Linked DNA regions of Homo sapiens. The protein of the gene in region 2 purifies or fractionates together with the protein of the main gene of each other region. This does not show direct contact. Each region holds a gene or a part of one and is shown on either strand. Other genes may lie near its edges.

Region 1 (4,236 bases), on a different chromosome or scaffold from region 2:
GGCAGGCTCTCCCTCTGCTCAAGGATTGACATCTGGGTCTTTTTTCCGTAAGAGGCTTTGTTGCCCCCAAAGGCATGCTTCTTCCACTCAGGAATATCATTGGGCATCATCCCAATACCCCTCATGTTGGCAGCAATCTGTCTGCCTTCCGCTGGAAAGGAAAACAGGCAACTTAGTATTGTCCTCAAGCTACCTCAAGATGTACCAGGAAAAAAATAAAATGGCATGCGGGCACTGCACATGCAGCATCTCAATTCAGCGACCCGTGATCAAAAGTACTCAAAGAAACAAATTAATGTGAAGAAAAGAATATAGAAGGGGCAGCAGGGAATGGGAAAGAGACTGTAACAAGTGGTGCTACACACCTGTGATGTCAGAAAAAAGGTTAGTTGAGAGAAGTGAAGACCTGACTGCTTGACACTGGAATTATTTTTTTTTAGGTAGGGTCTTGCTCTGTCATCCAAGTGGGAGTGCAGTGGTGCAATCCTGACTCACTGCAGCCCCGACCTTCTGGGCTCAAGCGAGAAGAGGTCACTCTATGTTGCCAGGCTGGTCTCGAACTCCTGGGCTAAAGCAATCCACCCATCTCACCCTCCCAAAGTAATGGAATTACAGGTATGGCCACCATGCGCAGCACTCTCCCCTTTTTAAATAACTGCTATATCGAGATGTAATTCACAAACCATGTTACACTTTTTTTATTTTATTTTATTTTTTTGAGACAGGGTCTTGCTCTGTTTCCCAGGCTGGAGTGCAGTGACGCAATCACGGCTCACTGCAGCCTCAAATTCCTGGGTTCAAGGAATCCTCTCTCCTTGGCCTCCCAAAGTGCTGGGATTACAGGTATGAGCCACCAAGCCAGGTCTCCGTGTTACTCTTTTTAAGTGTTTAACTCAGTGTTTTACTGTATATTCATTAAGTTGTGCAACTATCCCCACTATTTAGAGTATTTTCATCATATCAGAAAGAAACCCTGTACCCATTAGCAGTTACTCCCCATTCCTCCCTTTTCCTTTCCCTTGGCAACCATTAGTCTACTTTCTATGTCTACGGGTTCTATTCTGGATACTTCATACAATATGTGGTCTGTTGTGCCTGGTTTCTCTCAGATTAATTTTTTTCTTTTTCTGAGACAGGGTCTGGCTCAGACGCCCAGCAGGCTGGAGTGCAGTGGCGAGATCTCAGCTCAGCAACCTCCACCTCCTGGGCTCAAGCAATCCTCCCACGTTAGCCTCCTGAGTAGCTGGGAATACAGGTGCACGTGATTACACACGGCTAAACTTTTTTTTTTTTTTTTTAGATGGAGTTTCGCAATTGTTGTCCAGGCTGGAGTGCAATGGCGTGATCTCGGCTCACTGCAACCTCCGCCTCCCAGGTTCAAGTGATTCTCTTGCCTCAGCCTCCCTAGCAGCTGGGATTACAGGTGCGTGCCACCACATCTGTTAATTTTTCTGTTTTTAGCACAGATGGGGTTTCACTATGTTGGCTAGGCTGGTCTCAAACTCCTGACCTCAGGTGATCCACCCGCCTCAGCCTCCCAAACTGCTGGGATTACAGGCATGAGCCACCATGCCTGGACTAATTTTTGTATTTTTTTAGAGACAGGGTTTCACCACATTGCCCAGCTTGGTTTCAAATTCCCCAACTCAAGTGATCTGTCTGCCTCAGCCTCCCAAAGTGCTGGGATTACAGGTGTGAGCCACCTTGCCCAGACCTAGCTTATATTTTCAAGATTCACCTTGGAATTGTGGCTTGAGGAGCAAAAAAAAATGAGCAGAATTTTAGTGGCTCTCTAGCATATGCAAACATTTTACAAATTTGATGCCAAAAGCTGGCTACGAAAAAATACTTATGCCTACTAACCAAATAAGTGAGCTTAGGCAGAGGCCAAAGGAGGGTCATGGAGAACATTTCACTAAAGGGTAAAAGGGAATGAATGGGTTTATTCTGAGGAAATGGAAGATGATATTGTTAAACAATGAACGAATATGTCCAACCTTCTACTGTAAATCTAATATTTTGGTTTTTATTTTTGTCGTTTTTAAAAATTTAATTTTAAAATAGAGACAAGGGCTAGGCACGGTGGCTCACCAGTAATCCCAGCACTTTGGGAGGCCAAGGTGGGCAAGATCATTTGAGGTCAGAAGTTCGAGACCAGCCTGACCAACATGGTGAAACGCTGTCTCTACCAAAAATGCAAAATAATTACTCGTGCGTGGTGGCGGTCACCTGTAGTCCCAGCTACTTGAGGCTGAGGCAGGAGAATCGCTTGAACCCAGGAGGCAGAGGTTGCAGTGAGCCAAGACTGCACCACTGCACTCCAGCTGGGGCAACATAGTGAGACTCCATCTCAAAAACTAAACTAAACTAAACTAAAATAACAAAACAAAACAAAATAAAATAAAATACAGATAAGGTCTTACTATGTTGCCCAGACTGGTCTTGAACTCCTGGCCTCAAGCAATTCTCCTGCCTCGGCCTCCCAAAGTGTTGGGATTACAGGCGTGAGCCATCATGCCGAACCTAATCTAATATTTGAATCTCTATTACATGCAGCCAAACTGATATCTAAATTAACACAATTCCCAAACTTCTGTCTCCAGCCCAGACCTCTCTTCTGAGCTCTTATACTCAATTCTACACTGGATACCTCAACCTAAGATGTCCTCTAGTTGCCTCGGACACAAGTCCAAAACGGAATTTGACCATCTTTCCCCACAAACCCATTTCTCCTCCAGTGTTCCCATCATTCATCCTAGTGCTCATACCAGAAACCTGGAAGTCATCTTTGACCATTCCTGTTGCCCCACATTCAACAAATTACTTTTCTCAAGTACATCCCTCCTCTTTGCTACCTCCATGTTCAAGCCACCATTCTCTCTCTTCATAAAAGCTTTCTAAATCATCACATGTGCCCCATCCAACTCATTCTGCAGGGCACCCTCAATCATCCTTTGGAAATGCAACTCTGGTCATGCCATGTGCCAGCTGCAAACTTTCAACATCTGGCTGGGCACGGTGGCTCACACTTGTAATCCCGGCACTTTGGGAGGCTGAGATGGGGGGGGGATCACCTGAGGTCGCGAGTTCGAGACCAGCCTGACCAACATGGAGGAACCTCGTCTCTACTAAAAATACAAAAAATTAGCTAGGCGTGGTGGTGCATGCCTGTAATCCCAGCTACCTGGGAGTCTGAGGCAGGAGAATCACTTGAACCAGGGAGGTGGAGGTTGCAGTGAGTCAAGATCATGGTGTTGCACTCCAGCCTAGGCAACAAGAGCAAAACTCTGTCTCAGAAACAAAAACAACAACAACAAAAGAACTTTTCAACATCTCCCAGTGCTATTAGAATTGAGCCCAGCTTCCTAATGCCACCTACAAAGCCCTGGCCTGATGTTCTTATCTCATCCCCTACCACTGCCCACTGCTCTCTCTATTCCATCCACACAAGCCTTCTTTCAGTTCCTTCTTTCCCACCCCACAAACCCAACACGGGCTACTCCTCAGGCTGGAACATACTCCCCAACCTCCATCCCATCTCCACTTGACAGACTGAGTCCAATTTATCCTTTGGGTCTCGATTTCCCCAGGGAAGTGACCCACCACAGTCAATTACACTGCCTGTACTTCTTCACATGGCACTGATCATAATTTAATTATTTGGTGATTATTTAATTAATATCCATATCCCCGACTAAGTTGTAGCGCATAAAAGCAGGGATCATATCTGTTTAATTCAAATCGTATCCCCAGTTGCCAAACACAAATTAAATTAATAAGTATTTGTTATGACTATATCTAGTAGCTAATATTTACTGCACAAAGAATTATATGAAAAAGGAAGCTTCAAAGCTGTATTACCTTTAGAATAAAAATTTTTTTTTTGAGACGGAGTCTCACTCTGTAGCCAGGCTGGAGTGCAGTGGCGCGATCTTGGCTCACTGCAACCTCCGCCTCCAGGGTTCAAGCGATTCCCCTGCCTCAGTCTCTCGAGTAGCTGGGACTACAGGCGCGCACCACCACACCTGGCTATTTTTTGTATTTTTAGTAAAGACGGGGTTTCACCATGTTGGCCAGGATGGTCTCGATCTCCTGACCTTGTGATCCGCCCGCCTCAGCCTCCCAAAGTGCTGGGATTACAGCATGAGACACCGCGCTAGAATAACATTTTTAAAGTGATTCAGAAGAAAAACTCAGTCTAATGATTTGACCATGGCTATTAAAACATTTTTGGTT
Region 2 (4,236 bases):
CCGCTGGGGTGAACAAGGAGTGGCTGCTCGCAGGGCTCCTCCGACCGCGCAGGCGGAGCCGGACTCAACCCTTCCGGGGCTTCCGCCAACGCCGAGTCCCGCGGGCCCTCCGCGATCATCCCCTTTGCGTCCTGGGACAACGGGCTCGCATCGCCTGTTAAGCTCCCGGGATCACACAGGTCAGGGGGTGCTGTGTCCCCCACGATGTCCTCGCCGGCGCTGGGCGGAGGCTCCTCGGGGGCGACGGCCATGGCCTCCCAGGCGCCTTCTTTGGTAGCGGGGGTGCCGGGATCGCGGGGCGGCGGAGCCTTCTTGGTGCTGCTGAGGCCGGCGGCCGCATCTGGCTCCTCCAGGGATTCGGCGGCGGGGCTGCCAGGCTGAGGCTCGGCGTCGCGGTCCTCGGGAGGGCCCCTCTCTGCTCCAGGTGCACTGCAGCCCCCAAACAAACAAACACGCCCGTTAGCGTGGGCTTGACAGGCTCATGTCATTGCATTACAAGGACAAATACTTCAAAACGTTCATTTGCTATTTCGTCTCTTTATTTTATTATTATTATACTTTAAGTTTCAGGCTACATGTGCACAATGTGCAGGTTAGTTACATATGTATACGTGTGCCATGCTGGTGTGCTGCACCCATTAACTCGTCATTTAGCAGCTATTTCGTCTCTTTAAATACATCTCGCCGAAGCCCAATATTAGGCTAGTACTACTATCTCTGGAAACTCCCAATTTTCTCTTTCCCTTATTAAATAAAAATAAAATGTTATATCATCAAGCCCAGCTCCTAGCCTATTTTTCAAAACAATAATCCTAGAGTTCTAGGCTCTTCCTGTTTCTGGATATCCCTCTAGTTCTTCCAATTCCTCTATTTTTTTTTTTTGTTTTGTTTCATTTTGTTTTGTTTTTTTGAAGGACAGAGTCCCACTCTGTTGCCCAGGCTGGAGCGCAGTGGTGTGATCTCAGCTCCCTGCAACCTCCATCTCCTGGGTGCAAGCGATTCTCCTGACCCAGCTTCCCGGGTAGCTGGGATTACAGGTGCCCACCACCATGCCCAGCTGATATTTGTGTTTTTAGTAGAGATGGGGTTTCACTATACCTTGGCCAAGCTGGTCTCGAACTCCTGACCTCAGGTGATCCGCCCGCCTCAGCCTCCCAAAGTGCTGGGATTACAGGCGTGAGCCACCGCGCCTGGCCGCAATTCCTCTAGTTCTTCCTAATAACTAAGACTAAAGAAAAAAAGTCCAGTGATGACAGGGCCTCCTCCTTTCCTCTCGACTCCCTTTCTCTGATTTCTCTTGGACCCTCAAAGGTAGAGGGGCCACCTCCAAACACAGCCAGCAGCTCCTCCAATTACTGACAAATTATGAGGAATCAGAGGCTTTAGCAAAACGTTCTGTAGTAAATTAACTTTGTCCTTTGATTCCCGCAGAGCTTTCGATATATCCTCGGGGTTAATAATGAAAGCTGCTGTGGCCTGGGCTTGTCTGCACAGCCACCTACCTCACCCTCACGCTACCTGGCCTAGGTGAGGCCAGAGTCCCCTGGCCGAGGGAGCGAGTGTCCAAGCTGGCCTATCCTTAGGTTGGGAATGAGTGTTCCCTGCCCACAGGGTTCGCCCCATTCCGGTTTAATATCTACGCCCTCCTAACAGAGGGCCTCAGTGAGGGCACTCCCACCCGCCGGGGGCCATTCTGGGGTTGCCACAGTGATGGGAGCCCCGCCAGCATGAACAGCACCCCCACAGGTGAGTGCCAACAACCGTGCGGGTAAAAACTACGGGTGTGTCACTGGCACGGTTTTCACTGACACTGACGTTTCCAGGAAGGCACCCAGTATATAAATCTAGAGTCGCTCATGCTGTGATTTGATCAGAACTTCACCAGAAGTTGTTCGCCATGAGAACACGACTTCCTGATGATGAACCCGCGCCTGGCACCGAGTATGGTGACATCCGGCCGCACTCTGAGCTGTCACTCACAGCCAACCTGTGCAGAGATGCAAGCACCGCCTGCACAGCCTCTCGCCACGGGGCCGTCCTGCTGCTGCTTTGCGAGGTGAAGCCACTGACGCTGCATGACAAATTCCCTTCCTCTCACTCCTGACCAACGTTACATTCACATTCTTCACTAACATGACATGATTTTTTTTTTAAATTGTGGGGCAGGTTTTATTATCTATAATTTCAGAATCCTTGAAGGGCCTTTACAAAGTACAGTCATGTACCTCATACATACGGTCAACAACAGACCACATATGATGGCGGTCCATAAGATCACAACATAGCTGAAAACTCCCGTCACTGTAACAGTCCAAGGGCAACGCGTGCCTCGTGAGTGTGGTGATGCTGGTGTAAACAAACCCACTGCACTGCCAGTCCCATGGAAGTCTAGCACATACGATTAGTACATAATACATGACAATGGCAATAAACGACTCTGCTGGCCGGGCACGGTGGCTCACGTCTGGAATCCCAGCCCTTTGGGAGGCCACAGCGGGTGGATGAGTTGAGGTCAGGAGTTTGAGACCAGCCTGACCAACATGGTAAAACCCTGTCTCTACTAAAAATACAAAAAAAAAATTAGCTGGGTGGGGTGGCGCATGCCTGTAGTCCCAGCTACTCAGGAGGCTGAGTCAGGAGAATTGCTTGAACTTGGGAGGCGGAGGCTGCAGTGAGCTGAGATCGCACCACTGTACTCCAGCCTGGTGACACAGCGAGACTCCGTCTCAAACAAAAAAACAAACAAAAAAAGAAGTTATTTTTGTACAGCTGTATGTTTGTGTTTTAAGCTAAGTGTTATTACAAAAGAGTCAAACAGTTTAAAATTAAAAGTCTATAAAGTAAAAAAGTTACAGTAAGCTAAGGTGTGTTTACTATTGAAGAAATCAATTTTTTTAACAAATTGAGTGCGGCTGAAGTGTGCAGTGTTTCCAGAGTCTACAGTAGTGTACCGTCCCAGGCCTCCACATTCACTCAGCACTCACTCACTGGCTCACCCAGAGCACCCTCCAGTCCTGCCAGCTCCATTCATGGTAAGTGCCCTGTGCAGGTGTGCCAGTTTTCCTCTTATACCATATTTTTACTGTCCCTTTTCTATGTTTAGATACACAAATACCACTGTATTACAGCTGCCTACGGGATCCAGTGCAGTCACAGGCTGTGCAGGTTTGTGGCCTAGGAGCCGCAGGACACACCATCTAGGTCTGTGTGACACACTGTGGTGCTGGCATGACAACCACATCCCCAAACGATGCATTTCTCAGAAGGCATCCCTGTTGTGGACGGACGGATGTCTGTATGTGCTTCTTCACAGGACTGAGAGCCCTGGCCTAGACCCTCAGCACACCCTCACATCATCATTTCTCATGAGAAAGATGAAATGAGATGGCACTTGAAGGCGTGCCAGTAACACCGCTAACCAGAGAGAGGTGGCCACGCAGGAGGAGAAATAGCATGGTGAGTACATCAAGTTTCCGTGGACTCAGTCCTGTATGCCACATTTTTTCTTTACTCTTCTAAAAGGCAAGTTAATAAATCCTATACATTATAATTCAAATCATTCTAGGATTCAAAATGTTCATTATAAAATTTCTACAGCATTCAAATACTGACACATCTGGAGGCTACTGGATTTCCTACTATGCTGCCACACGTGCCTCAGATGTACTCTTACGTTACCTCATTTCATCCGTCGAGCCTTTCAGTTTGTTGCTAAGCCTGAAGGTCTCTAAGATTTTGTCTTCTGGGAGAGACAGCAAAGGAGCAGGCATCAACTGCAATAAAAACAAAAATATTTCAGCTTCAGTCGCCAGCTCCATGCCTCCTGAAATCCAGCCAAGGGAACCGCCACAAACGAGGCTGAAGACCCTGACGTGCACTCACCTTTCCAGGAAGACCGTTTGCCTTAGCAAAGGGATTTTCTGAGTGCAGGGCAGGCTGGCCTTGGCAGCTGGCACCATCAGGCGCTAGGCCGTTTTCTTTCGGGTCACTGTCGCTGTCTGCACTATTAGCACCGTTTAGGGTCATGGGTTCTTGAAGCTCGTGCGGAGTGGCCTCCTCATCTTCGGCATCTTGGCCGGGAGAGTGGGAGCTCACAATCGTACCAATCCCATTCTCCTTGCCCAGCCCCTTTGACTCCTCGTCAGAGTCCTCAGAGGACTCGGCGCCATAGGGCACCAGCACGCTGGAGTTCAGCTTGGATTTGCCATTCATCACGGGCTGGGAGCAGGATTCACT
Region 3 (4,236 bases), on a different chromosome or scaffold from region 2:
CACTGGGCACCCAGTGGCGGCCTCAGCAGGAAATGAAGCCAGAGATTTCACACATGAAGGGTGGATGAGGGTGGCGTCAGTTTTCACTTGTGTGAGGGAGCAAGCAGGCGCGCCCGCAAGGATGTGAGGTGCACACTGGCTTTGGGGAGGATGAGTTACACAGGGGGTGGCTAGGGGTCCTCCTGACACCTGATGGGATGAAATGCCGTCACCTGTCACCCGGAGCTGACACTCTACTGCAGGAAACACAACCCTCGCAGTGGCTAAGCTGACGGCAGCAACGTGGGTCCTGACTCTGGCCTGGCATACCGGCTGCCTTCCGGGCCCATGGCTTTTGCAGGGGACCTGCTGCCGGGGAAGGATCCTAACTTCATGGTGGTGACAGGCTGACATAAACCAACCCAATAAGGAGCGCCAGCCCCTGAGTGAGCCCCACTCCCTCCGGCAGCAACTGAGAAACTCGGAAGCTGGGGGAGAGCCTTTGGCTTCAGGAGGGTTCACATTGAGGCTGAACTCCCCTGTGCAGCTTGGCCTTGGGAGGGGAGTGGCCCAGGGCCTGAAAGGATGTCTTTACTAAGGCACCGTCCTGCCCACATCAGCTGTTCAGGTAACATCTGTCCCATCCATCCCTCATTCCCACACGGACACCACACGCCTGCGTGATGGCCACTTACAATGCAGTCAGGAGAGGTGTGACGTGCCCCCATCCTCGGCTCACCACAGCACTGCCAGCTGAGCCCCACGGGCCACAGCAGCGGGAAGCAGCCAGGGAGGGCCGGCCGGGTGCTCTCAGGTCTCAGCAAGCCACGTGGCTCTGAGGCCAGGACACTGGGGAAGCCAGGCTCCCACGCAGGCAGAGCTACTGCTGAGGCCATAGGACAGCAGAGGCCTCGTCCCCAGTGGCTGGGAGGAAAGAGGGTCAGGGCCTTTGCACTGCAGGTCCCAGCCCAGGCTTGGGGGTGCTCCCTGGGGAATGGCTGTGGGGATGGGCACTAGGAGCCAGGCCGAGCTGCTTCCATTTGCAGTCTCGCCCCTCTGGGGAGGGAAAGGACAGGCAGAAGCTCTGTGCTGTTATTTTGGCGGCCCCTAAAGAGCCAGTCCTCCCAAAGAACCGGAACTGGGCTCGCACTTAGTTAACCCACGGAACGCAGGAAAGTGGCAGGAAGCATGTTCCAGGTTGATGCCTGAAGAAGGGCTGGCAGCTGCTGCTTTTGTACTGAGGAGCCCTGAGCCCTGTGAAAGAAGGGGAGGGAGAGGCCCCGAGACGACACACGGAGAAGCCCACCCACCCCGGCAGCCCAGCCCTGAGCCCACGCCAGCTGAGCACAGCCACGCGAGCGACCAGCAGCAAGAGCTGCAGCACTGTCCACTGTTCACTGTCCACTGTCTGGCGGAGCCAGCCCAGAGCGCAGAGCCGCTGCTGCTTTAAGCCTCGTGGTTTCGGAGTCAAGCAGCCACAATGACCAGCACTACCTCCCCCATCTCTTTCCCTCTTCGTGTACTGCGTTACCCTCCCAGTCTTCCTACAGAGGAGCAAAGAGCCTTCAAGACCCAACGGCACGCAGCCACAGAGAGACAGGGCTGGAGCCCGTGCCTTCTGTTTTTTTTCCTTTCCTCCCCCTTCTTTCTCTCCTTTTTTCTTGAGACGAAGTTTCACTCTTATTGCCCAGACTGGAGTGCAACAGCACCATCTTGGCTCACCGAAACCTCCGCCTCCCAGGTTCAAGCAATTCTCCTGCCTCAGCTTCCCGAGTAGCTGGGATTACAGGCATGCGCCACCACGCCCGGCTAATTTTGTATTTTTAGTAGAGACGGGGTTTCTCCATGTTGGTCAGGCTGGTCTTCAACTCCCAACCTCAGGTGATCCGCCCGCCTCAGCCTCCCAAAGTGCTGGGATAATAGGCATGAGCCACCGCACCCGGCCTCTCTCTCCTTTCTTTAAGACAGGGTCTAGCTCTGTTGCCCAGGCTGGAGTGCAGTGGTGTGATCATGGCTCACTGCAGCCTCAACCTCCCAGGTTTAAGCGTTCACCCCACCTCAGCCTCCTGAGTAGCTGGGACTACAGGTGCACACCACCACACCCAGCTAATTTTTGTATTTTTTATAGAGACAGGTTTTCACCATGTTGCCCAGGCTGGTCTCAAACTCCTGGGCTCAAGTGATCCGCCCGCCTCAGCCTCCTGAAGGGCTGGGATGCCAGGCATGAACCACTGTGCCCAGCCTGCCTTCTGTTTCTGAGCTCAGTTTTCTGGTTTTCTACACTCCCCATCTCCCCACAGCACCAGGAAGGACATCAAATGCATTTGCCTTTGTGTGCGAAATTCCAATGTGCGTAGCTACATTGCTGGGCATAGTTCTGGTAGCCATTCCTCAGAAAGGTACCCAAAAGGACATCTGAGTGCAACAAGGGATTCCAATAGCTCTTGCATGACCCTCCAAGAAACAGGTCTCCTGATAGAGAGCCACTGGACGCCTAAAATTTACGAACAGAATGGCCCAGGGGAAAGGGAACTTGGCCACCTCTTTTGGGATTTAGAAAACAAGACACACTCTTTGACTTGAATGACATTGTTTTGGGCACCATAAAGAGGAATGCTTTACCAGGCAGGTGCTACAGAGAGCTGGACGCACACTTTTTTTTTTTTTTGAGACGCAGTCTCACTTTCTCACCCAGGCTGGAGTGCAGTGGTGCAATCTCGGTTCACTGCAACCTCTGCCTCCCGGGTTCAAGCGATTCTCCTGCCTCGGCCTCCCGAGTAGCTGGGACTACAGGCATGCACCACCACACCCAGCTAATTTTTGTATTTTTAGTAGAAACGGGGTTTCACCATGTTGGCCAGGATGGTCTCGATCTCTTGACCTCGTGATTCGCCCGCCTTGGCCTCCTAAAGTGCTGGGATAACAAGCGTGGGCCTGGCCCACAACACTTTTAAGAACTTGAATACTGAAAGACATCTATGAATTTGAAGAGAAATATTGCAACTGACTGGACACTTACATGATGTAAGGCACAATGTTAAGATACATGCCTAGTACATCAACACTCTGGAAAACCAAAAGTATCTGTCAGGTGGGAAGGTGGGAGTAGACCATGCTGTATCCAACATCACACCTTAGTCCTAGAGGGATGCCTACAGCCCTGAGGACCAAGGAAAATGCCAGTGAACTCGCCTCTTCCAGGAAATGCCAATGAAACCACCTTTGCAAAAACTGTAACAGTGAGAAAATTATGGTGGTGAAAGAGATCTGATCTAACCAATCCCCATCTTTGGCCTTCCAACTACCTTTTTTTTTTTTTAAATGGAGTTTTGCTCTTGTTGCCCAGGCTGGAGTGCAATGGTATCATCTTGGCTCATTGCAACCTCCGCCTCCCGGGTTTAAGCGATTCTCCTGCCTTGGCTTCCTGAGTAGCTAGGATTACAGGCATGTGCCACCATGCCCAGCTAGAGATGGGTTTCTCCATGTTGGTCAGGCTGGTTTAGAACTCCCGACCTCAGGTGATCCGCCTGCCTCAGCCTCCCAAACTGCTGGGATTACAGGCAGGAGCCACCGCGCCTGGCCCTTCAAACTACCTTTAATTATTCCTGGGCTTGGGCCAAGCTAACTTTGGGAGACATTTGTAATTTAAATGATAATACTCCTTCCGTAAAACTCAACTGCCTTTGTAAAGCTAATGAGGGTCCACGAGGATAGGAGGATGGAGGAACCTGAATTCTGCTAAGGGGTAGACATAAACAACTGCCAGCTATTCTTCTGGAGGTCACAAGATATGCGACTTCCCCAGTGACTCCTGCAGATAACAGCACTAGCAGCACTGTGGAACCTAAGACCGGCCTTCTGAGCTGTGTCTTTTCAGGGTTTTTGCATGTCTGATCAATGGCTCTACCTGAAACCAAAAAGAGCTCCCCGCAGCCCCAGCCAGAAGTGACTCAGTAAGCAGGACCGTTTCCCACACCCCTATGATTGCACCTCAACCAATCAGCAGCAAGCACCCGTTGCCTAGCCACCCTCCCCTTTCCCCAAACTATCCTTGAAAAACCCCGCCTCCAAATTTTTGGGGAAGCTGATTTAGTAATAAAACTCGGCCGGGCGCGGTGGCTCATGCCTGTAATCTCAGCACCTTGGAGGCCAAGACAGGCAGATCATGAGGTCAGGAGATCGAGACCATCCTGGCTAACACAGTGAAACTCCATCTCTACTAAAAATACGAAAAATTAGCTGGGTGTTGTGGCGGGC
Region 4 (4,236 bases), on a different chromosome or scaffold from region 2:
AAGGATACAAGTTTCTGGACAAATTTGATGCATCTGCCTGGAGGCACCAATTTTAACTCGAAGGAGTGGGGGTGTTACCCATAAAACAGATGCAATGGCAACGAATACGAAGTTCACCTTACATTTTAATTTAGGGAAGCTTCAAAGAAATTCCATGTTTGCTTATAGTAGCAGAACCCCTATAGTTCATTCACTCTCCTCTGCTGTTAACGACACTTCAGTAAAAAAGTTTGACAAACATTAAATAAGTGACAAAAAAGATAAAGGAACATTTATGTTCATTAAGTAGACATTTAATGAGAGCTTTGGATGTGCCAGACACTTTGGTAAATCCAAGAGATACACAAATGAAAAAGCATAGGTTTCTGTCCTTAAGGAGGCTACAAGCCTTTTTTTTTTTGAGACAGGGTCTCACTTTGTCACCCAGGCTGGAGTGCAGTGGCGCGATCTCGGCTCACTGCAACCTCCAGCTCCCAGGTTCAAGCGATTCTCCTGCCTCAGCCTCCCGAATAGCTGGGATTACAGGTATGCACCATCATACCCGGCTAATTTTTATATTTTTAGTAGAGACGGGGTTTTACCATGTTGGCCAGGCTGGTCTTGAACTCCTAACCTCAAATGATCCGCCCCCCTCAGCCTCCCAAAGTGCTGGGATTACAGGCATGAGTCACTGTGCCCAGCCAGGAGGCTACAAGTCTATTATAATAATTTTCAATCCTGGTGAAATCTCATGGTATGTTTTTTAAAATGCTGCCATCCAGGTTGCAACCCCTGGAGATTCTGATTCATCTCAGATTGGGCCCTGGCATTAGTTTTGTTTTCTTGATGGTTCGTTCCCTAGGTGATCCTAATAGGCAGCCAGGGTTGAAACCACAGGGTGTCACACTGACCACTCTCCGGCTCTCTAATATTAACACTTCGACCCAGGAAATAGGTTTGTGTAAAATGCCAGTCACCAACAAAAAGAGAACCATAAAAGTAGTATGTGGGCTGGGTGTGGTGGCTCACACCTGTAATCCCAGCACTTTGGGAGACAGAGGCGGGTGGATCACCTGAGGTCAGGAGTTCGAGACCAGCCTGGCCAACATGGTGAAACCCCGTCTCTACTAAAAATACCAAAACTAGCCAGGCGTGGTGGCAAGTGCCTGTAATCCCAGCTACACGGGGGGCTGAGGCAGGAGAATCACTTGAACCTGGGAGGCGGAGGTTGCAGTGAGCCGAGATCATGCCACTGCACTCCAGCTTGGGGGACAAGAGCGAGACATCGTCTCAAACAAACAAACAAACAAACAAACAAAAAACAGAAAAAAAAACAGGAAAAGCAAAAACTGAGTGTTGATTAAATTAAAAATATAGTGGCTGGACAAGGATTTTTAAAAGAGGCAGATAAAAAGGGGTATAGACAATCTTAGACAAAGAAATAAGAGTCTTCTCTCAAAAGATAAGAGCTGGCCTTATATTTTCTGCAAACCTGGTATCAGTGAAGAGGATCAGGAAGGAGATTAGAAATATTTTGTTTCTCAGATTCTGTTTCAAATTTTAGGTGTAAATGGGGATGCATTCCATATATGATATGGGGCATCACTGCAGTCTCTGCCTCCCAGGTTCAAGCGGCTCTTCTGCCTCAGCCTACGGAGTAGCTGGGATTACAGACCTGTGCCACCATGCATGGCTAATTTTTGTATTTTTAGTAAAGACGGGGTTTCGCCATGTTGGCCAGGCTAGTCTCGAACTCCTGGCCTCAAGTGATCCACCATTCTTAGCCTCCCAAATTGCTGAGAATACAAGACTGAGGCACTGCACCCAGCCGCTACTCTCTTGATACAACTGTAAGAAGTGGTTCAGCTGGGCATGGTGGCTCACGCCTGTAATCCCAGCACTTTGGGAGGCTGAGGTGGGCAGATCACGAGGTCAGGAGATCGAGACCATTCTGGCTAACATGGTGAAACCCCGTCTCTACTAAAAATACAAAAAATTAGCCGGGGTAGTGGCATGCGCCTGTAGTCCCAGCTACTCGGGAGGCTGAGGCAGGAGAATCGCTTGAACTCGGGAGGCGGAGGTCACAGTGAGCAGAGATTGCGCCACTGCGCTCCAGCCTGGGCGACAGAGGGAGACTCCGTCTCAAAAAAAAAGTGGTTCAATAAATAATACTGTACCACAAATTTTGTTGTTTTTTGTCAAAGTAGCTAATTTTCTAAAAACAAAATTCTTGCTTTTGTGTTATCTATACTTTAGGAATAAGGGAACTAAAACTGAGCCTGTTGGAAATTTGTTTTACCATTAAGCAACAGCTATCCTTTGATCTTTCAATAACAAACATCTCAACAACCATGGCCAGAAGACCTATCTAAATCTACCAAAATAAATCATACAGAAGAAGATTTACAGGGAGAAGTCAGAAAAAAAGAGTGAAGTTACACGTAATACATGCCTTTTCCCAAATTCAACATTCATCTCCCTAGCTAACTCACTGCAGGGTCTGGATGTTACCTATAAAGACGTTCATTTTAGGCCAGGTGCAGTGGCTCAAGCCTGTAATCCCAGCACTTTGGGAGGCCAAGGCGGGTGGATCATGTGAGGTTGGGAGTTAGAGACCAGCCTGACTAACCTGGAGAAACCCCATCTCTAGTAAAAATACAAAATTAGCTGGGCTTGGTGGCGCATGCCTGTAATCCCAGCTACTCAGGAGGCTGAGGCAGGAGAAACGCTTGAACATGGGCGGCAGAGGTTGCGGTGAGCCGAGATGGCACCATTGCACTCCAGCTTGGGCAATAAGAGTGAAACTCTGTCTCAAAAAAAAAAAAGTTCATTTTGTACTTCCAAGATAGCAAAGTAGGGCCAGAGAAAGGTCATTAGACATAATATACTTCTCAGACATGCCACCAGAAGGTATGAAATAGGAGAGTTAGAAATGAGGAGAAACAGAGAAAAATGAAACAGGATACCTTACAACCTGGTACTTATCTTTACTCTCAGCATAGGTGACAATGTAGAGGGAACAGCTTCAGCCCAAGGATATAATTGTTATGCACATAGAATTAAGTGATGTGGCTGACCCCAGACCAGATTTTTTTTTTTGAGTCTTACTCTGTGGCCCAGACTGGAATGCAGTGGCACGATTCTGGCTCACTGCAGCCTCTATTTCCCAGGTTCAAGTGATTCTCCTGCCTCAGCCTCCCAAGTAGCTGAGATTACAGGCGCCTGCCACCACATATGGCTAATTTTGTATTTTTAGTAGAGACAGGGTTTCGCTATGTTGGCCAGGCTGGTATTGAACTCCTGACCTCAGGTGATCCACCCGCCTGAACCTCCCAAAGTGCTGGGATTACAGGCATGAGCCACCACGCCTGACCCTAAGACCAGATCCTTTTAAAAGACATAGAAACCATTCTGAGCCTGCAACTGCTTCTCATTTACACAGCTTCTGACAGCATTTTTTCTTTTTTTTTTTGTAGACAGAGTCTCGCTCTGTTGCCCAGGCTGGAGTGTAGTGGCACGCTCTCGGCTCACTGCAACCTCCTCCTCCCGGGTTCAAGCGATTCTCCTGTCTCAGCCTCCTCAGTAGCTGGGACTACAGGTGTGTGCCACCACGCCCGGCTAATCTTTTGTATTTTTAGTAGAGACGGGGTTTCACCGTGTTAGCCAGGATGGTCTCGATGTCCTGACCTCGTGATCCGCCCGCCTTGGCCTCCCAAAGTGCTGGGATTACAGGCGTGAGCCACCGCGCCCGGCTGACAGCATTTTTTTCCTCACTGTGGTCTTCTGCCATCCAGCCTTCCACACCTAGAACTCTCTGCTTTGCTAAGAACTAGGTTCCCTTTCCTTTGCCCTCTCAGTCCTCAAGAACCCTACCAATATTTAAACCCAATCAGATGAGGATTCTGGTTTTTTTTTTAAAGCGACACCTGCTGAAATGACAAGACAAGGATTCTAAATTGGAAAATGAACCACCATAAGTCTTTCCATTTCTAGTAAGACTAGTAATAATTATTAAAGAACATTGCACTAAAAAGATGTGCTTTAGGCTCCTCTCCACCATTCAATAACTGCATAACCCAATAAAGATAATCTGATCTTCCAAGGCTTCCCTTACTTGTGAAATAAAGCTACCACATTAAAGGCCTTAATGCAGCCCATGCAATATCTTTCCTACATTTTTTTTAAGAGACATGGTCTCACTATGCTTCCTAGGTTAGAGTGGAGTGGTTATTCACAGGCACAACAAGAGTGCACTCA
Region 5 (4,236 bases), on a different chromosome or scaffold from region 2:
TCAACCATTCTACTTTCCTATGTTTTAAAAGCAGCATTTTAGTCAACAATTGTGAGTGCTCATCACCCTACATGCTGTGAACAAAGTCAAGGTACTTTATTCTTATTTCTTATCCTATATTCTGTGTTACAGAAAAACTACTACCATAAACAAAGCACCAACCAGCCACAGCAGTTGTGTCAAGCATGACAATTGGTCTAGTCTTCACATTTTATTAGTAAGTCTATCAAGTAAGAGATGAAGGGTCTAGAAAACTAGACACAAAGCAACCAGGGTCCAAATCACCAAGGTAGATCTGTGCTTAGCTAAAGGGAAACACCCGAAGATTCATTATTTGGATACAGACTATGGGACCATCTTATTTGAAGGAAGCTTTGATTTGCCTGTTCTTCAGTGGCTGAGCTGGGCGCCAGTTGTCCACCATCAGTTCTTCGGGTTCACCCTCCCCATTGAAGTTAAGTTTACGGAATTTCAACACCTAAAAGACACAATAAAACATTGATAATTAATGTTTCACAATGGTATTCAGTTATATACTTGTGTTATATCTTTAAATACATTCCCCGGCCAGGCGCAGTGGCTCATGCCTGTAATCCCAGCACTTTGTAAGGCTGAGGCATGAGGCGGGTGGATCACTTGAGGTCAGCAATTCGAGACCAGCCTGGCCAACATGGTGAAACCCTGTCTCTACAAAAAAAAAAACACACACACACACACACAAAAATTAAACAGGCGTGGTAGAGCACCTGTAATCTCAGCTACTCAGGAGGCTAAGGCACAAGAATCATTTAAACCCTGGAGGCAGAGATTGCAATGAGCTGAGATTGCGCCACTGCACTCCAGCCTAGGCGACAGAGCAAGGCTCTGCCTCAAAAAACAGAAACAAAAACAAACAAAAATTACATTCCACAACATTCAGTGCTGTGCATCAATGGCCAAAATTCAGTTTGATTCCTAATGAATACATAATCACATATAGATTATGTATGTATGCTTTAATATAACAAACCAATTTATACAAAATACACAAATTCGTTGGGGTCATTTTTAAGGGAAATTTTCAGTGACCTTCTAATTTAAAAATCTAACATCAAAAGTCTATAAACTCATACCTTTAGATGCAAAATAATAACAATTTTAGTTCCAAATTAAAGCTTTGTTTTCTGCCCCAGGGAAGACAAACTACCACATCCATACAATTAGATCAAGTGATCAGGACCTGTAAGCTCCATGGGCTGAGTGACGAGCTGGCATCTCCAAATACACAAAAACACGGAAATGAATTTGCCTAGGCTGATTTGCCTTAAGAAGCTCAATTTATCTCATGCTATGGATTTGCACTCAACCATTCTACTTTCCTGTTTTAAAAACAGCATTTTAGTGAACAATTGTGAGTGCTCACCACCCTACATAGCCCTACTGGCATTTTGCCAATATATGCATTTAACATTAGAACCCCTTGTCACTGGTTGATTTTTATTCCCTTATAAACTTGTTTCAGTTTACTGGCCACCACTGAGATACAGGCAGCTGTTGAACAGTCTCCCACTTCTTCAAGGTTCTCAAAAAGTGCTACTTTCCCCCCTCTAACCAAGACGTGATCCAAATGCAAAAGGGTGGTTTGGACAGTAATATAGCAGCCCATGAATCAACAGCCTTTAACCTGATCTCTTTTGTCCAGTAATAGTCCCTCAATCACCCCCGTAGAGCCACCTTCCATGCACATACATTATAACATGCACAGCTATGGTTACTGAATGCAAGGGAGCATTCTAAGGATATATAGGGTTGATTCGTTACAACAGAATTCCAGCAATCTGAAAGAGAGTCTGTTCATAAAGTGTAAACAGGTCAAACTTTTGATCAAACCAGTATAACCGATTTCTGCTACTCACTGCACCAATTAAACTACACTGTCACATTAGTCAACTTGACTCATTGTTTTAGCATCACAGAGACAGAGCCTGGGTATAGAAAATAAAGGTAGCAGAATTAGCAGACCCATTTATACTGCTTACCTAAAATCCACGCCCCCCCATACTTCCTCATTAACAGACATCCGCCCTCTCCCTGTAAGCCTCAGTGGGGTAAACCTGCAGGTCTTAACTGACTGTGATGATCACATTCCCGGGCTAGGGACTGAGCAAGAAACACAATTCTAGCCAGTGAGAAGTGAAAGGTTTTCTAGGGGCCTTCAGGAAAGAGCTTCTCTGCTCTTAGGAAGCCAATGGAAGAGGTATTCATTTCCTCCTCAAGAAGTGGTTATATCTAGATGTGATGCTCAAAATGCTATTACAACCACCTTGAGGATGAAGTCACCAATTGGCAAGGCCAAGTCAAGGGACTCAGATAGAGGAGGACCTGCAGCCCTAGCTTCCTGAGCTGAGCATGATCCTTCCTCCAGATTCCATGTTATAGGACAAAAAAAAGAGCCCTATTGGTATTTTGCCAATATATACAATTAACATCATTAGTTTAATACCACTTTCAACTTTAAAGAGCAAACTCAGGGTACAGGGATTAATGCAGTAGGTTCAACTGCCCTTATCTATATGTGTATTTCTGCCTGTGGGTGTGTATACACCATAAATCCATTTGTTATAATGGCTCTAAATGTCAGACTATTGCTTTAAAGTTGCATTGCTCTCAGTGAAAGAAGAAAAAAAAATTCATGTTTTAAATTATAATGTAAACACTGCATCTACAAAAAGAAGGGCATTATAATCTTTCCTTACGCTACACTTCAAGAAGCTTACTCAAATATGTTATTACTACAAGGTCAATCTTCAAGTGACATACCAAGCATGCTATTTTTTAGGCCCACTTTGATATGCTACAAGTAATTTTCCAGTCAGATACATATTTCCTTTAAAGAAAGATATGAAGTATCTTCAGCATTCATAAGTTCATATTCTAAGGGAGGACACAGGAATAGAATCCTTGCTCCCAGGCCTGATTCTGTTGCAAGGTAGCTGAGTGGAAAACACTTCAATTTTCCTGCATCTCAGACTGTTGATCAATGTGATTCAAGCCAGTGAAATGAGAAAGTTGGACAACATGATCTCTATTGCACATTGCAGCTCTAAACCTCTATTATTCAGCATTTTTGTAGGTTTAAATCACACTACCACTACTCACATAGTTACCATTTTCAAGACTGTTGGCTCCTAAAGCTATCCTTAAATTATTCAGGATCCATCCTCTTGTGAATCCTAAGGAATGTTCACTTTCTACATTTCAACTGTGCGCTAAGAGGTAAGTCTAGGAAAAACTCATTTGTATCCACTTTAGTGGCTGCTCATCAGTGACTTAGAAGCTGCACTAATCACTTGACGATCACACACTATATTTTATTGGAAATGTAAGAATACCTGCTCTAAGCCTCTAAAGCAACCTGGAGTGAGTTTTAATAGATACATGTTCTCCAAGGGATGACTCTCATCTGTCAGGATTCAGAAATGCATTCTGATATAAATAAAATAGCAGAAAGCCCTTATGTGAGTGAGTAGTAGGCTGGTAACTCACTGATACCTGCGTAACCTTGAATATGAACTCTCACTTTTCTAAGCCTTAGTTTCCTCATAACTGGCAAAAAAAAAAAAAGGCATTTATTAGGTGACAGACATCTTTCTCATTGAATCCTTACAATGACTATTCAATTTTAGAGACTAAACGAACTAAGTTTATAGTTAATAACAACAAAGATTTACTGAACGCTGTTTATTTGCTAGGCACCATCAAAGGCACTATTTCCATAGCAAGAAGTAGCAGGAGAAGGATTAAATCTCAGTTCTCTCTCACTCTGGAGGCCAAGGTCTTCTGCCTTGACTAAATGCTCCACCCGTAAACAGACCTGTCATTACAAAACAAACCTGCTCGCTGCTGACGCTGATGGGTTCCTTGAGCACAATCCAGGTCACACATTCCAGAAGAGGAGGGGTGGTCAGTGAGCCTGGGTAGGTCCAGTAATCCAAGGATTCAGGAAGGAGGCCACGAGGATCGAAGTTAGTGAAGTCAGCACTCTTGCCCTAGAACAAGGCAAATACGCAGCTTCAAACTATCACATTGACAGAGTAGGAGGAAGGTAGGAGAGCAGCAGACACAAATAGGTATACTCCCCTCTGATGGTCAAAAACACTTTTTAAAAAAGAGGTTCTATATTCACTGGCAAACAAAATAAAGAGAAATTAACAGAAGACATTCAACTTGAAAATATGTGGCAAGTCGTAGTAAAAA
Region 6 (4,236 bases), on a different chromosome or scaffold from region 2:
TCTTTAGTCTGGTTTCCTTGGGGCTTATTCATTAGGCATAAGTTGTATGAGTGATTGAAGCCCAGATGACATGTTTTATAAATACTGTTTATAAATACTAAATATTATTTATGTTAAATACTAAATACTATTTATAAATACTAAATACTATTTATGTTAAGAAATAAAAACTATTTCTTAGCATATCTATGTCCTTGGCAGTTGCCAAATTATTTTTTTAACGGTGACTTTTAACAAGTGCTGAAGGATAACTAGATCTAATTGCTATGAAATATTCTGAATGGTTATCAATGGTTAGGTTTTGAAAAGATTTAAATAGGTCCTATTGAGGGTTTACTAAACAATAGGGAAAACATCTGCATTAGTAGTGTTTTTCCTGATGTAGCGTTAAGAGTACAGAATAAAATTTCACTTGCTTTTGTCTATTATTATTTTATTTACATATTGATGGGGCTTTTCATTAATCTGTAGCATTTAAAGAGGTGAAATTTTTAGGCAAATGCAAAGAAATCTAAAGTAAGGTGGCAATTCCAATTTCAGGCTAGTAAGTTTTAAGGTAAAAATCATTAAATATATTTAACATATATAGAAAGTTACTTTATTAGACAGTAGTGAGAGCTTAGAAAGGTGGTCAAATATAACATAGGATTAAAAAATTAATAATTTCTCACTAGCAGATATTAAAAGTATTATTGCAATTATCTTAAGAGTATGGAATTAGGACATGACCAGTGGAACCAAGCAAACAGTCCAGAAATAGACCCATGCATATAAGTGAATTTAGGGGAGGGGGTTGTAAAAGCTGTCAAACTGGACAAGAATTGAATTTGGATCCCTGACTCATACTTGCATGTTTTAGGATATTATTCTGTATAAATTAGAGTACAGACCAGACTGCTGAAATAGACACCCAAAAACAAAGTGGCTTTGACAAAATAGAGGTTTATTTCACTTCACATTGCTAGGGGTAAATATAATAGTTAAGAACTGATAGGGGAGTTCTGCTGTTCTCAATTCACAGCTTCCCTCCGGGGTTCCATAGCTCTGGTTCTCATCTTCTCCAGCCAGGGGGAAGAGAAGAAAGGGACCAGGGAGTGAATGTGCATTCCCTTTTAGGGGCATGATTCAGAAGTGGCTGGCAAATCACTTCTACTCACATCTCCATCTCTAGATCCCAGCCATCTGATCACATCCAGGCCAGAGAAGCTAGGAAGAGCAGTCTCTAGCTCAGGTGTTCTATTATTAAAGGAGAGAATGGATATTGCCGGAGAGCAGCAATTCCTGCTTCATATCCTACTTCAAAACACTTTCCAGATGAGTTAGAAGTTTAATGTCAAAAGCAAACTTTAAAGTTTTAGAAGAAAGTGTATGTGAATTGTTTATAATCTTGTAGTGAGGAAAACCTTTAAGCAAGAGAGCAAAGGCAAAAATCATGCAGCTTTTTTGTGTTCATATTCATTAATATTAAAAACTATGAAAAGAAAGATGCTTTAAACAAAGTTGAAGACAGACTACAAACTGGGGAAAAATGTGTCTTTCTTTCTTTTGAGAAAGGGTCTCGCTCTGTCACCCAGGCTGGAGTACAGTGGTGCAGTCACAGTTCACTGCAGCCTCCACTTCCTGGACCCAAGCAATCCTCCCACCTCAGCCTGGGGGAAATATTTCTGACATGGCATAGGCTCTATCTTCAGTGCAAAACTAACTGTTAAGAATAAATATGAAAGGAATATTCCTCGTAGAAAAATTATGTTCATTATGGTGTTTTATAATGGCGGAACATTGGCTATCAGACATCTGGGGGAGGATATCCATTTTGTGGGATACTCAGTGGCTATTCATGTGATGTTATATATTCGGTCCACTGTCCCTCTCCCTAATGTATGAATGTTTGTATTAAGTGGCATAAATAAAAGCTACCAATAACCTCTGATCATCTGAGGTCAGGTTTTGCTACCAAATGAGTTTGCCATCAATTAGTAAAAAAAGAATTGTGATTTTCAGGGCTTCATGTATTTATTTACTCATTTGATCACTGAAATGATACACAAGATTTAAGTAGAACAGAGTAGGTTATAAAACATGCATGTAAACTCCATTTCTACAAAATCTATAGAAAGAAACATTTTTCTTCCTCAGTGCACAGAAAAATATTTAGGATGAGAGTTGTCAAATATTAACATTGATTCTCTTTGGCAGTTAATATAGGTAATCTTTGTTTTATCTTCATACTTTTTGAAATGAGCTCATATGGATTTTATTGTGGGCAAAGATAAAGCTTTTTATTTTGGAAAAAACAGTATTTTATTAAATATTTTTTTCTTTTTAGTGATAAGATGTTTCCAGCTTTTGGTTTTGGCGCTCAGATACCTCCTCAGTGGCAGGTAAGAGGAAATCTCTATTTTAAAGCTTTGCCTCCTAGAAAAGCAGCCCAGCCCTCATCAGTCCTTTGTCCATCTTTGACAGGTATCACATGAATTTCCAATGAACTTCAACCCATCCAATCCCTACTGCAATGGTAAGTTAAAAAATAAACATGAAGACTTCAAATGGAAAGGCTCACTAGTCTTTGTTATTTTGTTCTTTGTTCTTTGTTTTTTTTCTTGTGATTAAAACTACTCAAATTTCATCTCTAGGTTTCATTTTCTTACATATTTAACTTTCTGTTGTATAAGGTAGAAGAATTGCACCAGGTTGGTGGTTAGGGTGGTAATGGTAATTACGGGGCAAATCAGTATTATGATGATGAAGGTGGTAAGCTAAATCCTCCTACCTTAAGAACTTTAATAGGACAAAAACATTCTCAATCTTTGGAGTAGATCAGTAAAAATATCATATATTAAAAGTATTTTTACATATAAATTTATTTAAAAACAAACCTTCAATAAAATGAGTAATTTGATATACAGATCTTTTGAAGCTTTTTTCAGAGTGGTAGTCACTCTCTACGAAGAGAAAAGTATCCAGCATCTAATACTTGTTGCTCACACAGTATTCTATAAGTAGCTGGGATGGGCAAAAGGAACAAAGAATTGATCTTCTATAGCAGCTTTCCTCTGTGTAGAGAGCAGGAGGCAAATATTTGTCTTTCATTTCACTTTTTTCTTTTATTTATTTAAAAAAATAGAGACAAGGTCTCGCTATGTTGGCCAGGCTGGTCTTGAACTCTTGACCTCAAGCTATCTTCCTGCCTTCTGCCTTGGCCTCCCAAAGTACTGGGATTAGAGGCGTGAGCCACCATGCCCAGCCACGTTTTACTTTTTTCCTTATACCTCAAGTATCCAAGTGCTGCTTCTTTTTTTTACCACATTGAGCAATCAGCCAGAAATGCCAGCTCTTCCACTAAATTATATATCAGACTAAAGAGTTTGGAGAAGGCAAGGTAGGTGTGGGAGCAGAGGCATAATTTAAAATTCTAGACAATACTCTAATTTTCTGCAAAGGGTCCTTTTGACAATTACAAATGTATAGCTTTCTAACAGAAGAAAATGTTTTTTCCTTTTCTTCCTAAACAATATTCATAAGGTGGAAGAGCATGAACAATTTTTGTGGCGGCCGTTTGCAATATGGTTTTGTTCTTTTCCCCAGAACACTTTTTCCATACTAATTCAGTGTTCTTTGAGGCACTTTCAGTGACTGGTTGTGACCTCTTTTATTCCCTAGCCATTTGAAACTGGGAATGTTATTCTTTTTAAGAAATATGCTTCATTTTTATAATGAAAGTGGATAATCTTTAGAATTTGTTGTAATTAGCTTTCATTTATTGTAAATGAATATGGATGACATATCATATGATAATTCATTTTAGAAGTTCAGTCACTCTGTGAGTAATGTAAGCCCATCCTTGGGCTGTTCACCAAGTGGTTTACACTCTGGAAAAAGCATCAGTTTGGTTTTAAACAAAGGAGATACTATACAGCAAAAAGCTCAGAGCCTTATTTTAAGGCAAGGAAGTTTAATCCCCTTTTCCTAACTAATCATTGAATCTAGTTGCCTTAGAAATAATATGCCTTAGAAATAACTTGTTACTTTGATGCATAGAAAGGGTTTTGGCATAATTCAGTTTTAATTAAGGAATTGAAAGCTCTTGATATTTGTGAAGAAATTATTATTATTATTAATTTTTTTTTTTTTTTTTTCGAGACGAAGTCTTGCTCTTTTCCCCCAGGCTGGAGTGCAATGGCACGATCTTGGCTCACTGCAACCTCCTCCTCCCGGGTTCAAGCAATTCTCCTGCCA
Region 7 (4,236 bases), on a different chromosome or scaffold from region 2:
TATTTCTGCATTTTCTAGTTTTCTAAATGACGTGCTTAATGGACAAGAGTGTGATGAATCATTGACACATGAAAGGAGGTATAGGAACTTTTGGCATTCATTTCTGCTGTGATTGAATTTATTTTTCTAGGATGGAAGATTTGACAAACCCAGAGGATATCCGAACAAACATCAAATGTGACCGGAAGGTGTCACTTTATGGTTATTTAAGAGGAGCACACTTGAAAAATAAAAGCCAAATTCACATGCCAGGTATTCTCTTGTTGTAGAACATACTAGAATTACACATAGGATTCTTGGGATGGCTTCATTTCTCAGGAAAACTGAAAAATGACCAAACAAGGGAAGATGGCCTTGCTGGAGGTTTTAAAAGTAAGCCACCTATGTGTAGGCCTGCAAAGGTGTTACTGAATCCCCTCTTCTCTGACCTCTTGTCTTGTAGCTAGGGGGCCACTGTTCCAGTGTGGCACAATGCCCTTCTTTAGTGTTATGGGTTAAGCCCTTGGACTGTGGATCATATTTAACCCCCTAGTCAATGGTAGATGCTTCTGACTTCTTGTCAGCTGAAGCTGGCTTTTGGGTTCTGTCTTCCAGGGGTAGGAGATTTTGCCGTGAGTGACATCAGTTTCCTCCCAGACCCTTGCGCTCTTCCTGAACAACAAAAGAAGCGCTGTTTAAATGAGAAGGAGAAGCTGGTTTATGCGCCTCTTTCTGGAGTTGGGGGTGTGCTGTATGACAAAGACGCTGTCTATGTTGACCTTGGTGGCAGCCACGTTTTTCAGGTATCGGTGAGACGGGAGTCATTTCTCTGAACTTTCAGTATTCTTTCTGAATCTATTTTTTAATCACAAAAAGTAATGTACTCAGCTTTTATTTATTGAAGATTTTTCTCTTGTACTTATAATAAAGGCCCAAATGCATATTGTAAATATATAGGATAAAAATAATACTTTTTTTTTCATTGTACCAAGCAGAAGAGTCCTCTCCTTCATTCCTCCTTGATCCATGGCCCCAGCACAGGCATTGCTGCTGTGTGGCGCCTGCACGGCCCATCCCCGTTTCTACAAAATCAGTGTGCTTTCCAGCTTTCATTGGTCTTTTTCTCATTCACAATGGTCTCCTCATGCTGTATTTTAAAGTGGATTTCAAATATTTATTTCTTTGTTCTGAAGTGGAATTTTATTGGGTTAAAATCGGCTTATTTTAAAATATTAGAAAAGCTAGCATTGTTGTAGCTTTGGAGCTGAGGTTTTTCTAGCTAGGTTGTTTAGGTTATCAGGTTATATACTCCCTGAACTTTGGAAAAGTTTAATGGAGATGGGGATCCATTTCAAGCTTTGTTGTAAGGATTTTCTTCTCTGCTTTTTGAGGCATTAAGAAAGGTTCTTAGGAAATGTGTCTAAGATAATTTTGAGAAACTGAGTGAAGCTCGTGTCTCTCCAGGATCTTTGTGCTTTCCTCACGTGCCCTTTCTTGGTGGTCTTGACAGGATGAAGTGGGGCCCACCCATGAGCTGGTCCAGAGTCTCATCTCTACCCACTCCACCATTGATGCCAAGATGGCTTCAAGTCGAGTGACGCTGTTTTCTGATTCCAAGCCACTTGGGTCAGAGGATATAGATAATCAAGGGTAAGTCTGCTTTTTTTCTATTTTTAATAAAAAGATGTATTACAAAAGATCATATCACCCATAATTCAGCCATCATAACACATTTCGGTGGGATTCATTCTATGTTGTTTTGTTTTTCTTTGTGTGTGCATGTGTCTCTGAGGGCTCTTCACTTACCTGACATTACAAGGGAGTCTTTTCTTGAAATAAATTGCAGGATGCATTTTTCAACAGACCCCAAATATTCCTCAAATACCATGCCATCTTCCATAGGTTGCCTTTTGTTTTTTAAGAGACCTGAAGCCACTTGGCTTTCTTTTGGTGGCCAAAACACTAGAGCAAAGTCAGGGAGTTTGTGGCTGTCCAGAAGCCACATGCCTTGTCTCTGAAAGTTTTATTTAGATTGTGTTGTATTATCTCCTCTGGGTAGGTTTCCGTGGATGTATGGCTCATGTGAATTATTTTCCAGTCTGGGTTGGGGATTTGTATACCTTTATATGCAGTGGATGTTTGCAAAACATTGGTTTTGTTGTATTGATTTATGACTCCCAGTAAAATTTATCTGAAAATTTTGAGATTATCTAGTATGTAATTTGGTACAATGTGCATAAACTACCTAGCAGAATGCCTGACAGGTACGAAGTGTTCGCCGAAAGATCACTCCTTTATAATGGGATTACTAGCTATTTTCACTTTTGCATATCCTTCTAGTCATCTTTGTCTACAAGAATACTCTCCTCTAATATAGTTACAGTTAAAATACATAATTTTATTTCTATATTATCATTTCCTTCTTTTTTTTTTTATTATACTTTAAGTTTTAGGGTACATGTGCACAATGTGCAGGTTAGTTACATATGTATACATGTGCCATGCTGGTGCGCTGCACCCACTAACTTGTCATCTAGCATTAGGTATATCTCCCAATGCTATCCCTCCCCGCTCTGCCCACCCCACAACAGTCCCCAGAGTGTGATGTTCCCCTTCCTGTGTCCATGTGTTCTCATTGTTCAATTCCCACCTATGAGTGAGAATATGCGGTGTTTGGTTTTTTGTTCTTGTGATAGTTTACTGAGAATGATGATTTCCAATTTCATCCATGTCCCTACAAAGGACATGAACTCATCCTTTTTTATGGCTGCATAGTATTCCATGGTGTATATGTGCCACATTTTCTTAATCCAGTCTATCATTGTTGGACATTTGGGTTGGTTCCAAGTCTTTGCTATTGTGAATAGTGCGGCAATAAACATACGTTTGCATGTGTCTTTATAGCAGCATGATTTATAGTCCTTTGTCATTTCCTTCTTCTATACAGTCTTTATGTAGTCATCATTTTGTTATTATTGGTGTATTCTTTTTTTTTTGTGACAAGATCTTGCTTTGTCTCCCAGGCTGGAGTGCAGTGGTATGATCTTGGCTCACTTCAGCCTTGAACTCCCAGGCTCAAGTGGTCCTCCTGCTTCAGCCCCCCAAGTAGCTGGGACTACAGGAGTGCGCCACCACTCCTAGCTAATTTTTTTTTTTTTTTCTAGAGATTAGGTCTCACCATGTTGCCCAGGCTGGTCTCAAACTCCTGGGCTCAAGCAATCCTCCTGCCTTGGCCTCCCAAAGTTCTGGGATTACAGATGTGAGCCACTACCCCTGGCCTATTATTGCTGTATTCTAACTTACCCGTCTCTTATGGTATGATTTTCAGTTTTTTCAAATTTATGTTTTCTTAATTTTATATATCTTGCTACATTAAATAGCTTCATACAGTTTTCTTTTATCCTGTGATTTTAGCTTCCTGATGATTCTTCTGTATCAGTTATAGCACTGGTGACTTAAAATGGATGTTCTTCCTCTGTCATTCCTCCTACGTTTGTTAGCTGGCATTTTTAACAAAGAGCTTTCTCTTCTCCCCTTTATTTCGGTATCACTGCTGACTAATGCACTTGTGTTTTGTTCCATGGGTTATTTTCCATCACTATCATTATTCTTCCTGATGCCTATGCTGGCCCAGATTTGGCTGCAGGAGCCTTCAGCCTGTCTCCTGTGTCCTTTCAACTGTCTCTGTTAGTCTTTGAGCATTTCTCACTTTCTGACAGAACAAGAGGATCCAGGCTCATTTTGCCTTCTTTCTGCTTTGGGCCTGGACTTACCCATTTCTCTTAAGGATCATGTGTTTTTAGCTTAGAAATTAATCAGCTTTCCAAAAGATCTACAAAACAGTAACTTCTCTTTTGAGCAATTTTTTTCTAAAATTAGATTTTTGTTTTTTAAGGGTTATTCCTTTATTCTCTCTATAAGTTCTTTTGAAGTGTGGTGTTAGGGAACCATGCCCGAGTTTGCTTCTTAACTCTTCCAATGTTTATCAAATCATATTTTCCCTATGCTATGTCATCTTAAACAATTCCTTGACATTTTCTATTTCTTTGTATTTTCATTGACTATATTGCCATTTCTAGATTAGCTGATTAATGTACAAATTGAATTATTTTGTATTTCCTTGGTAATACAGGCTAATGATGCCAAAGGAGGAAAAACAAATGGACTTGAACACTGGTCGAATGCGTCGGAAAGCCATTTTCGGAGATGAAGATGAATCTGGAGATAGTGATGATGAAGAAGATGATGAAATGTCTG

Evidence for each region.
Region 1: the proteins of USP42 (region 2) and DHX8 purify together in Homo sapiens (co-immunoprecipitation; one large-scale study listed by IntAct). This does not show direct contact.
Region 3: the proteins of USP42 (region 2) and LRRC47 purify together in Homo sapiens (affinity purification with mass spectrometry; one large-scale study listed by BioGRID and IntAct). This does not show direct contact.
Region 4: the proteins of USP42 (region 2) and MRPS21 purify together in Homo sapiens (affinity purification with mass spectrometry; one large-scale study listed by BioGRID and IntAct). This does not show direct contact.
Region 5: the proteins of USP42 (region 2) and CA2 purify together in Homo sapiens (affinity purification with mass spectrometry; one large-scale study listed by BioGRID and IntAct). This does not show direct contact.
Region 6: the proteins of USP42 (region 2) and CPNE3 purify together in Homo sapiens (affinity purification with mass spectrometry; one large-scale study listed by BioGRID and IntAct). This does not show direct contact.
Region 7: the proteins of USP42 (region 2) and BMS1 purify together in Homo sapiens (affinity purification with mass spectrometry; one large-scale study listed by BioGRID and IntAct). This does not show direct contact.

The regions. Positions count from the first base shown.
Region 1 is NC_000017.11:43,500,559-43,504,794, reverse strand, and holds part of DHX8 (ATP-dependent RNA helicase DHX8), read right to left. Parts: intron 152-4,236; coding exon 1-151.
Region 2 is NC_000007.14:6,149,949-6,154,184, reverse strand, and holds part of USP42 (ubiquitin carboxyl-terminal hydrolase 42), read right to left. Parts: coding exon 3,883-4,236; intron 3,774-3,882; coding exon 3,679-3,773; intron 1,229-3,678; coding exon of another isoform or gene 1,216-1,228; exon of another isoform or gene 522-1,215; intron 430-521; coding exon 1-429. UniProt on the Homo sapiens protein: Deubiquitinating enzyme which may play an important role during spermatogenesis.
Region 3 is NC_000001.11:3,789,832-3,794,067, forward strand, and holds part of LRRC47 (leucine-rich repeat-containing protein 47), read right to left. Parts: intron 1-4,236.
Region 4 is NC_000001.11:150,296,507-150,300,742, reverse strand, and holds part of MRPS21 (small ribosomal subunit protein bS21m), read right to left. Parts: intron 1-4,236.
Region 5 is NC_000008.11:85,476,912-85,481,147, reverse strand, and holds part of CA2 (carbonic anhydrase 2), read right to left. Parts: intron 4,029-4,236; coding exon 3,873-4,028; intron 479-3,872; coding exon 359-478; 3' UTR 1-358. UniProt on the Homo sapiens protein: Catalyzes the reversible hydration of carbon dioxide. Can also hydrate cyanamide to urea. Stimulates the chloride-bicarbonate exchange activity of SLC26A6. Essential for bone resorption and osteoclast differentiation.
Region 6 is NC_000008.11:86,548,720-86,552,955, forward strand, and holds part of CPNE3 (copine-3), read left to right. Parts: intron 1-2,326; coding exon 2,327-2,381; intron 2,382-2,463; coding exon 2,464-2,515; intron 2,516-4,236. UniProt on the Homo sapiens protein: Calcium-dependent phospholipid-binding protein that plays a role in ERBB2-mediated tumor cell migration in response to growth factor heregulin stimulation.
Region 7 is NC_000010.11:42,792,363-42,796,598, forward strand, and holds part of BMS1 (ribosome biogenesis protein BMS1 homolog), read left to right. Parts: intron 1-130; coding exon 131-252; intron 253-594; coding exon 595-782; intron 783-1,489; coding exon 1,490-1,629; intron 1,630-4,111; coding exon 4,112-4,236. UniProt on the Homo sapiens protein: GTPase required for the synthesis of 40S ribosomal subunits and for processing of pre-ribosomal RNA (pre-rRNA) at sites A0, A1, and A2.